Homo sapiens: one gene and its partners. The protein of the gene in region 3 purifies or fractionates together with the protein of the main gene of each other region. This does not show direct contact. Each region holds a gene or a part of one and is shown on either strand. Other genes may lie near its edges. The genes, in order: HSF2, DNAJC13 and HSPBP1.

Region 1 (3,653 bases), on a different chromosome or scaffold from region 3:
AGAAGAGACCCAGACTCATAAATGAAGAATGTAGAGCAAAACAAATAATGATTTTCCCTTATTAGATTAAATTTACAACCCTTGACAATAACCAGTATTGGCAACTAGGTAATTATCAAAATTAAAATGCTTAAAATGCATACGTCTTTTCCTATCTTAAAAGAACTTTCCCTCTTATACCTTCTTTTTCAATCTACCCATCTGTCTTTTCCTTAACTGCAAAATTTAACAAGCAGGTATTTTAAACCCCCCTTCTCCAATTCAGGACCATCCACTTACTCTCACTGAAAACTGCTTTTGGTTCCCTCACTCGACTGAAACCAGATTTCTAAAATGTCAAATATCAAATTCAATGCCCTCTTTTCAGTCCTGATCTTCCTACACCTCTCTGTGGCATTTCATTTGGTACAACTAACAATCTCCTCCTTAAATGTTCGACTCTCTGGGCTTTGATGCTAAACACTGTTGAGTCTCTTATCTCTTATATTTCCTTTCAATTTTCTTCCACCTATCAAATAAGAGGTAGCTGTATTTTCCAGGTTTTTATCCTTAATCGTGGCACCATTCATATTCTTTCCTTAGAATTCATCCACAGTAGGGTATCTTATTATTGACTTTATTTTATAATAAACACATCTACAGCTCTGTCCCTGATCATCTCAAATTACACACTTCAATTTAAAATGTTAACATTTTTTACACTATGTTCTTTAACTCAGTATGTTCTAAACCCATTTCCTGTTTCCCCGGAAGTCAATCTTTTCTTGTGTCTTCCATTCTACCAAGTCCCTTCCTCACTAAGTCACCCGACAACATTTGATGTCAAAAAAAAAAAAAAAATGAAGTTAAAAACTCTCATTCTAACAGCTAGTAAGGGGGAAACATTAAAACATTCCCTTTAAAAATTAAGAACAAAGCCAGAATGCCATGATAATTGCTTCTACTCACTCTTAGTTACTGCCAAAAGAAAAACGGAAGGCATAAAGGTCTGAAAGGAAGAAAATAAATGTCAATCACAGATACTATGGGTGTACTCAGAAAACTGAAATCAGTAAAATGATTTGCTCACTGATTTATTATCAATATACAAAAATTACTTGTATTTCTAATTACCAGCAACAGCTAGAAATCTATTTTTAAGTCAAGAACACCATTTACAACATATATAAGATATCCAGGAAGAAAATGAACAAAGATCCACAAGGCCTAATAGCAAACATAAATCAACAAAATGAATTTAGAAATATGCCTTGTCATGAGAATACACAACACAGAGATATCGATTTTCCCTAATCTGATTTATATAGTTTTGATCCAATTGCAGCAAAAATCCAAAAGGCTTTTTTTTTTTTTATGGAACTTGATTTTAAAACATATGTGGAAGAGCTAAAGACCAAAAATACTTAAGGCACTCCTGAAGGATAGATTACCCTACCAAAAGACTTTTTCTGAAGCTACAGTAATTAAGACAGCAGAAGACAGGCACAGGATAAATTGTCCAATGGAATGGCATAAAGACTCCAGAAACAAAACCACTGAATGTTTGTGTCCCCCAAAATTCTATGTTGAAACCCTTGCCCCTGATATGATGGTATTTGGAGTTAGAGCCTTTGGGAGGTAATTAGGTTCAGAGGAGGTAATGAAGATAGGACCCCCCAGGTTAGGTTGGTGTCCTTATAAGATAAGAGAGACCAGAACACACTCTCTCTCTCTCTCTCTCTCTCTCTGCCATTGGGAAGACACAGAGAGAAGGCAGCTGTCTGCAAAGCAGAGAAAGCTCTAACACAGGAACTGAAATGGCCACTGCCTTCATCTTGGACTTCTCCACCTCCAGAACTGTAAAAAATAAACGCCTGTTGTTGAAGCCACCTGGTCTATGATATCTTGCTACGGCAGCCCAACTGATTAAGACAATATCTACACGTACTTGTGACGTAAGATAGAAGTGGCAATATAGATCATTGGAAAAGGAAGAACTACTCAGTAAAGGTGCTAGACAACTAAAATGTAAAAAGCCACAAACTGGAAGATATGGCCAAAACATAAACTCGAATATGTAGAATATATAGGAATTCTCACAAATAATAAAAAAAAAAACAGAAAAATGGCAAAACAAACATTTCACAGAACAGGAAACACAAATGGCCAACGAACGTGAAAAGGTTTTAGAACTCATTAATAATCAAGAAAATATAAATCAAAACCTCATTGAGACAATGCTTTACATCAATTAGATTGGTAAAAAGTAAGAACGATAACTAATACACAGTTTTGAAGAGGCAGATTAACAGAAAATCTCATACATGGCTAATAGCGGAATAAGCTGGTGTGATCTCTTTGGAAGATAATTCACACTATCTTGAGGTTAGACATTTCATATCCTATATCCCAGCAAGTCACATGAGTGTACAGACCTTAGAGAAACTCTTGCTTATATACACCAGGAGAGATATACAAGAATATTCCTAACAGCATGTGACACAGTTGATCTCTTTCCTGAGCCATTTTCTTTCATTAACTTCTGTGGGTTCACTCCCTTGATTTTCCTTCTTTTTCACTGTTCCGTCTCAGCCTCCTTTGCTGGCTTTTGTCTTCATACTCTCTAAATGTTGGAATAATACATCTTTTGGTTCCTTCTATCTTCACAGAAGATGATTTCATTAAGTCTCCTGGCTTTACCAGTTACAAGGTCTAAACTCCACCCTGAATGCCAAAGTCTTATACTCAACCACCTATTCAACATTTCCACTTGGACATTTTGGAGTGTGGAAGTCAGTCAAGCTGTTCAAAAATACTCCTGTTTTTTTTTCTAGCACTGCACTTCCTCATCCCTTTTGAAATTAGGTGTGGCCATATGACTAGGCATGGTCAAATTTAAGAAAAATTAAACAATTTTCAAGTTGTTTCAAATACTACTAGAGATCCATTTTTAATCTCAAAGTTAATATGCCAAAAAGAATCTCTAACATCTTTCCTCAGCAAATGGATTTATCCTGTAGTTCAAACCAAATTTATGAATCATTTTTAATTGTCGTTCCTCCAACCATAGCCAATTTATCAATTTATCAGCAAATCCTGCAGCTTTGCCTTCAAAGATTTCAAAGCTACATCTCAATACCTTGACTGCTGCTACCTTAGTCTCAGCCATCAATATTTTCAATACCATACAGGAAAACTGTGATAGTCTTCTAACTGGTCCCCTCATTTCCAATCTTCTTACTATAGATCTAGGGCCCTATACCATCTGCTCCTGCCTACCTCCCTACTCTCACTCTCCTAATTCCCTAAAGATATTCTAATCACATGGGCCTTCCTGCTTCCTTGAACAGCCACATTCAAGGCCTTACCTTTTGTCATTCCCCTTTGGCCCATCTTTTCTAATCATTTAGATCTCTCCTCAAACATCGTCTCCTTGGAGAGGCTTTCCTCATCACCTTACCTAAAATATTCACAAATCCTAGTCTGTTTATGGGCCAGTTATCAATTTATTGCTCCAAATTCATTCTTCATTGTCTGCTCTACAAGCATAGAGCTTGGTTCCTTAAATAAATATCTTTCTTTTTCTAGGTGCCATGATGTTAAGTTCTGTCAGCAGGGGATAAAAGAGAGATATTACAAGAAAAAGGAGCTCTTGTTCCTGACTCATGTATCCT
Region 2 (3,653 bases), on a different chromosome or scaffold from region 3:
ATTGTTACTGTCATTATTATTTTATTGTTACAATTTATGTTTCCCATAAAACGTTTTTAAAAAGAAAAAAATATTGCCGGGTGCGATGGCTCACGCCTGTAGTCCCAGCACTTTGGGAGGCCAATGCAGGCAGATCGCTTGAGTCCAGGAGTTCAAGACCAGCCCAGGCAACATGGCAAAACCCTGTCTCTACTAAAAATACAAAAAATTAGCTGGGTGTCATGGCACAGGCCTATAGTCCCAGCTACTTGGGGGGCTGAGGTCAGAGGACCACTTGAGCCTGGGAGGCTGAGGCTGCAGTGAGCGAGCCCTCATCTTGCCACTGCACTCGAGCCTGGGAGACAGAGTCAGACCCTGTCTCAAAAAAAAAAAAAAAATATATATATATATACACACACACACACGTGCACACACACACACACACACACACACACATATGTATATATAAACACCAAGATAATCAGGATAGATGAAATTTTTAAAAATCATCTTGTCAACTATAACCCAACACTTAAGCTTGTCTTTTATTTCAACTTTATTCCTACAAAATACTATTACAAGTCAATCTTATTTACTACATTTTTAATATTCCCCACTTAGGTATTTGAAATTTCAGTTGTTAGAACTGTTTCCTTACATGTATCCAACCTAATATTTTTAAATTTATGTTTGATGGCTACAAATTAACTATGGCTTGAGAAACTTTCAAGAAAAAAAAAACTTCACAAAATAAATTTAATCTGCAGTCAATATTTCCTCTGTACATTAATAAGCTCTAAAAGTGATTCAAAAAAATCATCACTTATAGGCAAAAACTCTTAAGCAACCATTGATTTCCACTATTTATGATGAAAAAAATCTGTAAAATTTCTAGTATCAGAAGCTCAAGTATCAAGCAGGTAATATCAGTAACAGTCAAATATAAGCACATGCTATCAACAACCACAAACTGTCCAACTAAAAAATGTAAACAGTTAAATGGGATCTTGAATGAGATCTTGGTAGCAGCTGTATCACTAGCATTTGCCATTCTGCCAGTTGTTTAGAGGCTATTCGAAATAGCAGGAATTTATCTGCTCAAACTAACGTCACTTAAATTTCATCTCCTTCATTCCTGCAATTGTGTTCCATATTTCAAATTCTCAAAGACCCATGATTCTTTCTGATGAGGAAAAATCAAATTTACATGCCTTTTGTAATTAAATTGCATTGAAAGCATCTCCAATTTTTGCGAGTCAGCTTCACTTGTTTTCATGCTATATCCTAAATTACACCACCAAAGAAACTTCTGTTTGTTCTTTTTATAGAACTGTCCTATGGGTTAAAAAGTCAAATTCAGGGCAACACAGGCATTTTGGCTAGATTCACCTCTCTCAATGAATACTACTGCATCATGCTTTCGAACAACACAATATTCTTGCATTCTCTAATTTATTACTGGCAGTAATACTGGCAAACCATTTAAGATCATTTATGGTTAAAATGAGAATGATCTTTTAGAAGACACATAATTTTGACAGAAAACCACAGGATTTGGGAGTCCAGTGAGAAGAAGCCTACATCAAGTTGACACTAAGAACAAAAGCAAGATGAAGGGACTCAACACCACAGACACTCAAGCCAATTACGGTCAAGCTATAAGCAAAAAAATTTACACACACAGCAAAATTAAGTATATACACATGGCTTGTGTTAAGCAAAAACACAAGCAGAACACTCATTTAACTAGGGATGAATGAATACACTTAGAAAAAAATACACTAGTGAAAGAAGGATTGGCATTAATCAGGCTAGTCACCTGTTTAAAGCACGTATTTAGCATCATCAACTGGAAGTAATTTTTACACAAATATGACAACTTGCAGAGAACAGGTAAGCTACTGATTTTCCCATTTTGAGTCTGTAAAATGCAAGAACGGAACTTACTTTCATTAGCTCTGCCCTCAATAACTAAAAATGTGAATTTGTTTTGAAATGCATAAAAAATAAGATGGATTGATGGAAAGATGGACAGATCTGTGATAAAGCAAGTACAGTAAAATGTTAATGTAAAAACCTTTAGGTGGGCATGTGGGTATCTAATGTAAAGTTCTTTCAACCTGGCTGTAGGTGAAAATGTTTACAATATGTTGGGTGAAAATTGTGGAGTTTGCCTTTTCTGATCAAACTCTCCTACAACAGAAACAATGCTACATTCCAAAACCACACTTAAAATGTAGCAGACATTCACATCATAGGAACTAATTTATGAACGTAATACTTCCTACAGCTATATCTTACCAAAAAGGGAGGGGTAGTAAGGAGAACCATGGAAAGACTAACCCTTTGAAAAAATAACTAATAAGAGTAATAGATAGAATATCTTATATTGGCTTCTTGAGGATCTAGGTTTGTTTGTAACTGGATTCAAAATCTGAGTAAATCATAGCACTAGATTAGTTTGGTTTCAAACAAATGGTAAAAAATATGAATGGCTAACAGAATGTTCATTTTTACCCAGATTAAATAGCTACAACTAAACTGTTTAGATAGAATGTGCTGTGTATGGGGGAAACTGCCATATGAACTTTAACCCTATTTTTAAATTTTAGCTTCATTTTAATATATGACTCAAGTACAGGTAAAAGCATTTTCTTCTAAATGAACAACAAATCAGTATGTGTAATATGTATGATACCAACAGGAATCTTAAAACAAACCATAAATACATCACAAAGATTTTAGTACCTACCATCTTAGCCTTCCTTAACTTACTGAAGAACCCGATACCTCCAGAGATAGATGTCGTTGAAGAATAAAAAAAGCCAGCGGTAATATCAAATTTCATCTGATAATCATATCTTCAAATAATTGCCCAGATATTTTAAAGTGAAGTGATTGTACTGTCACATCATAATCAACTTTTAACTAGTTTCACTACCATAGGGTAGCTGAAATAATATGAGATCTCCACCATTGTTTTTAAAAACTTGATTCCTTTCTATTACAAACTGAGTATATATTAATGAAATACAGGGCAAGAAAAATTCAAAAGCAACCCCTAAATCTGAAGAAACACTTAATGGGAGGAGGGGACAAGCATACTTACCATAGCAGTTACTTTTTTTGACCTCTTCTATTCAACAGTATAAATCAAGTATTGAAAAGAGACCTGTCTCTTCTATTTCTATCACATGTATGCTCATTTCATCTGAGGGGAATAATTTGTATTTCTGACAAAACAGAAGTTTATCTGTTGTTAAAAAAATTCAAATTTTCTGTGAAAGATGTATTACTATGACCCTTCCCTTTCCAAAGCTTAAAAATGCCTTAAAATACTCACCTGAAAGCTTTCTTTCCAGAAACATGTTCACTTAAGCAATGCTTTGAAATCATTGCTATTGATCATTTACATATTTTTAGTTTATACACATTATTGTAACTTTATAGACCTAATTTCTATTTCATTTTATCTTTGAAGCATAACCTGGCTTATGCAAGAACAAACTATACTATTTCTGTAAGGTCTTCAGCTTATCAACTTATTAAGCTTATCAGCTTATTAAGGCACTTAATAATCATGCTCTACTATGGTAAACAGGCCCTGAAATGGGCAAAAGAAATTTTTAGCAGCCATATTTTAACTTGTTGCTGTTTTTCCTATCATTACAGTA
Region 3 (3,653 bases):
GGCTCTGTGTGTCCTCTCCAGACCCCCTGGCCCGATCCCTCCCGTGTGGAGGAGACACAGTGGGCCCAACTTCAGCAGGTGTGCATAAGGATTCAGCGAGTCAACACCTGGCATGGAGAAACTGCCCCACAGATGTTGGTTTTTGTCCCGTCCCTGTGCCCGACCTGGTGCCTGTGTCCCAGGCGGCAGTATTTGGGGGAGTCCTGGCCAGCTCTGCCCTATGGAGCTGCAGAAACCTGGCCGTGTCCCTCTGCCCACACCTCAGTTTCTTCCCCTGTCAAATGAGGATGCAAACGGTCCCTACTTCACAGGCCATTAGGATAAAAAGAATTTGTGGCTGGACATGGTGGATCACACCTGTAACCTCAACACTTTCAGAGGCCAAGGCGGGAGGATCCCTTGAGGCTAGGAGTTCAAGACTAGCCTGGGTAGCAAAGCAAGTCTTGTCTCTATATAGGTTAAATGAAAAAAAAAAGAAGAAGAAGAATTCATGTACAGCAGGGGTTCTGACCAAGGGGCTTTCTACATCTAGGGGCATTTGTGCGCTGGCAGGTGGGGTGATAGTGTCTCTCCATGGCCTGGAGGCCACCCACCAGATGCTGCTCAATGTCCTGTAGTGCACAGGACGGCCCCCGAGAGAGTGAACCAGCGCCAGTGTGAACAGTGCCCAGCTGAAAAACTGCTGTGTGCAAAGCGCTCACGCTGAGGGCCAGGTGGTCTCCCCGGGAAGTGGTCACATCTGCTGCCTGGCTAGCAGGGGGTTTGGCCGAGTGCGCCACTCACTCTGCCCGCAGCACTCAGCCGTGCAGGGGTCCAACAAGCATGGGAACAAACGAGGGAAGGAGATGCCTCTCCCTCTGCCCCAGCAGATCCCGGGGGCCCACCCGGCACCCCCCCCCACCGCCAGCACCCCTGTCCCCAGCCCCACCCGGACACTCACAGGAGATGGCGAAGAGGGCCTTGACGCGCACCGTGTCGCAGGCGTCGCGGTCCAGCAGCCGCAGCAGCTTACGCAGGGCACCCAGGCCCAGCACCTGCTCCTGGATGGCTGCCACGTTCTGACTGCACGTGCCGATGAGCTGTGCCGCCCGCCACCGCAGTCCCGCAGCCCCCGCCTCCAGGTACCGGCCCACCAGCAGGTGCATGCCAGACAGCTGGCAGAAGTCTGTGCCACAGAGGGGAGCAGAGAGAGGCCAGATGTTAGGGACTGAACCGTGCCCCCCAAAATGCATGGGTTGATGTTCTGACCCCCAGTACCTTGGAATGTGACTGTTTTTGGAGATGGGATCTTTAAAGAGATCATTAAGGTAAAATGAGGTCCTTAGGGTGGGCCCTAATGCAATCTGACTGGCGTCCTGATAAGAAGAAGAGATGAGGACACAGACACCCACAGAGGGACAACATGGAGGGAGGACACAAAAAATGCCTTCTGCAAGCCAAGGAGAGGGGGGCTCAGGAGAAACCAGCCCTGCCCACACCCTGATCTCAAACTTCTAGCCTCCAGAGCCGTGAGAAAATACATTTCTGTTTTTAAAGCCAGTAGTCTGTGGTGCTTGGCTAAGGTGGCCCTAAGCTGACCACTACAGCTGCTGAGGCCGGGAGAGCCAGGCCGGCTCCCACAGGGACGCAGCTCTCTCCAAACACCCAACCAGAGGTCCCCCCAAGGCTAGTACAACTCGATTCCATCAGCATTTGGGGCATTAGGGCCCCAGGCTCCAGACTACTAAATGCCAGGACTGATCCTGGTCTTTGTGACAATCTGAATGTCCCCAGGGTCAGCAAACCACAGCCCACCTCCTGTTTTTGTAAATAAAGTGGTATTGGAGAGCGTGGCAGTTCCTAAAAAAATGAAATACAGATTCCCCGTGACCCAGCAATTCCGCACCAAGGCACAGACCCAAAAGAACCAGAAGTAGGGACTCAGATACTTATATACTCAAGTTCATGGCAGCATCATTCATAAATGACCCAAATGTCCTTAAAGGATAAAGGGATAAATATAAACTGCTCTAGCCATACAACGGAGTATTACTCAGCCATAAAAAGGAATGAAGCAGCTGGGCGTGGTGGCTCAAGCCTATAATCCCAGCACTTTGGGAGGCCAGGGTGGGCAGATCACTTGAGGCCAGGAGTTCGAGACCAGCCCAGGTAACATAGCAAAACAGGGTTTTTGCTATGTTATATACTAAAAATACAAAAATGCCAGGCCTGGCCAGGTGCGGTGGCTCATGACTGTAATCCCAACACTTTGGGAGGCCAAGGTGGGTGGATCACGAGGTCAGGAATTCAAGACCAGCCTGGCCAACATGGTGAAACCTCATCTCTACTAAAAATACAAAAATTAGCTGGGCATGGTGGTGGGCGCCTATAAGCCCAGCTACTCAGAAGGGCAAGGCAGGAGAATCGTTTGAACCCGGGAGGCACAGGTTGCAGTGAGCTGAGATCGCGCCATTGCACTCTAGCCTGGGCAACAGGGTGAGACTCTGTCTCAGAAAAAAAAAAAAAAAAAATTTGCCAGGCCTGATGACATGCACCTGTAATCCCAGCTGTTTGGGAGGCTAAGGTATGAGAATCACTGAAACCCAGCAGGTGGAAGTTGCAGTGAGCTGAGATTGCACCACTGCACTCCAGCCTGGGAGACTGACTCAAAAAAAAAAAAAAAAAAAAAAGGAATAAAGCTCTGACACACGCCACAACATGGGCACGCCGCCTTTAGCACAATCAGCCAGACACAAAAGGTCACGTTATAATCATCTATATGAAATGTCCAGAACAGGCAAATTCATACAGCCAAAACGCTGATTAGTGGTTGCCAGGGGACCGGGGGAGGGCCGGCCTAATGGGTGCTGGGTCTCCTTTGCAGGCAATGGAAAAGTTCTGGAAATAGAGGTGGTGTTGCACAACATTCTGAATTGACTGTAAGTGGTATAAACAGTCATATGGGAGGATGTTCCCCTCAGCCCACCTTCATCAGCACTGTGCATCTTCATTAAGACAGAGAAGATACACATATATATTTATATTTATATACACAGAGAGCGCACGAGGCCAGGGAGGAAGTGGTATCTTTGGCTTTCGTTCTCATTTGATTACTAATAAGGTGTAAAATTGCTGCTGCTGTGATGATTGGACACTCAGCACAGTGCTTAGCACACAGCAGCTGCTCAACAGATATTTCCTGAACAAGCAAAAAATGAATGAAAGAGCAAAGTCGTTAAAAGCCATCCTGCGGATTGGAGCAGGAGTTCTCTGCCCGGATAAGACGGGGAGACACTGGGGAAAGGTAAGCTAGAGGGTGGCGGCTGCACTGCAGGTCTTCTCGGGGTGCTGCATGCGCTCACAGAGGAGGGCTTCCCAAACTCCGTCCAGCCCCTGTCCAAAATGAAGACACCTGACTCCCAGGCCTGACACGTTACGTTTACTCTGTGCCTGGTGTTGTGCGGGCCTGGGGGTTTCTCTCGGCCCAGCCTGCGTACAAGAGGAAGTAATCAGGACCTGCCCAAACCAGACTGCCATGTAGCAGCACAGCCTGAACTATGAACCAAGGAAGTGACACCCCAAATCCACACCCTCAATTGCTACACCACCCAACCCCTCCAAATGGAAGTGAGCTCTCCTCAAACCTTCTGTGAGCTCTGCTGCTTGGAGTAAAA

What was found.
Region 1: the proteins of HSPBP1 (region 3) and HSF2 purify together in Homo sapiens (affinity purification with mass spectrometry; 2 studies listed by BioGRID and IntAct, with this or other methods). This does not show direct contact.
Region 2: the proteins of HSPBP1 (region 3) and DNAJC13 purify together in Homo sapiens (affinity purification with mass spectrometry; 2 studies listed by BioGRID and IntAct, with this or other methods). This does not show direct contact.

What each region holds. Positions count from the first base shown.
Region 1 is NC_000006.12:122,406,036-122,409,688, reverse strand, and holds part of HSF2 (heat shock factor protein 2), read right to left. Parts: intron 1-3,653. UniProt on the Homo sapiens protein: DNA-binding protein that specifically binds heat shock promoter elements (HSE) and activates transcription. In higher eukaryotes, HSF is unable to bind to the HSE unless the cells are heat shocked.
Region 2 is NC_000003.12:132,423,858-132,427,510, reverse strand, and holds part of DNAJC13 (dnaJ homolog subfamily C member 13), read right to left. Parts: intron 1-3,653.
Region 3 is NC_000019.10:55,273,458-55,277,110, forward strand, and holds part of HSPBP1 (hsp70-binding protein 1), read right to left. Parts: intron 1,166-3,653; coding exon 941-1,165; intron 1-940. UniProt on the Homo sapiens protein: Inhibits HSPA1A chaperone activity by changing the conformation of the ATP-binding domain of HSPA1A and interfering with ATP binding. Interferes with ubiquitination mediated by STUB1 and inhibits chaperone-assisted degradation of immature CFTR.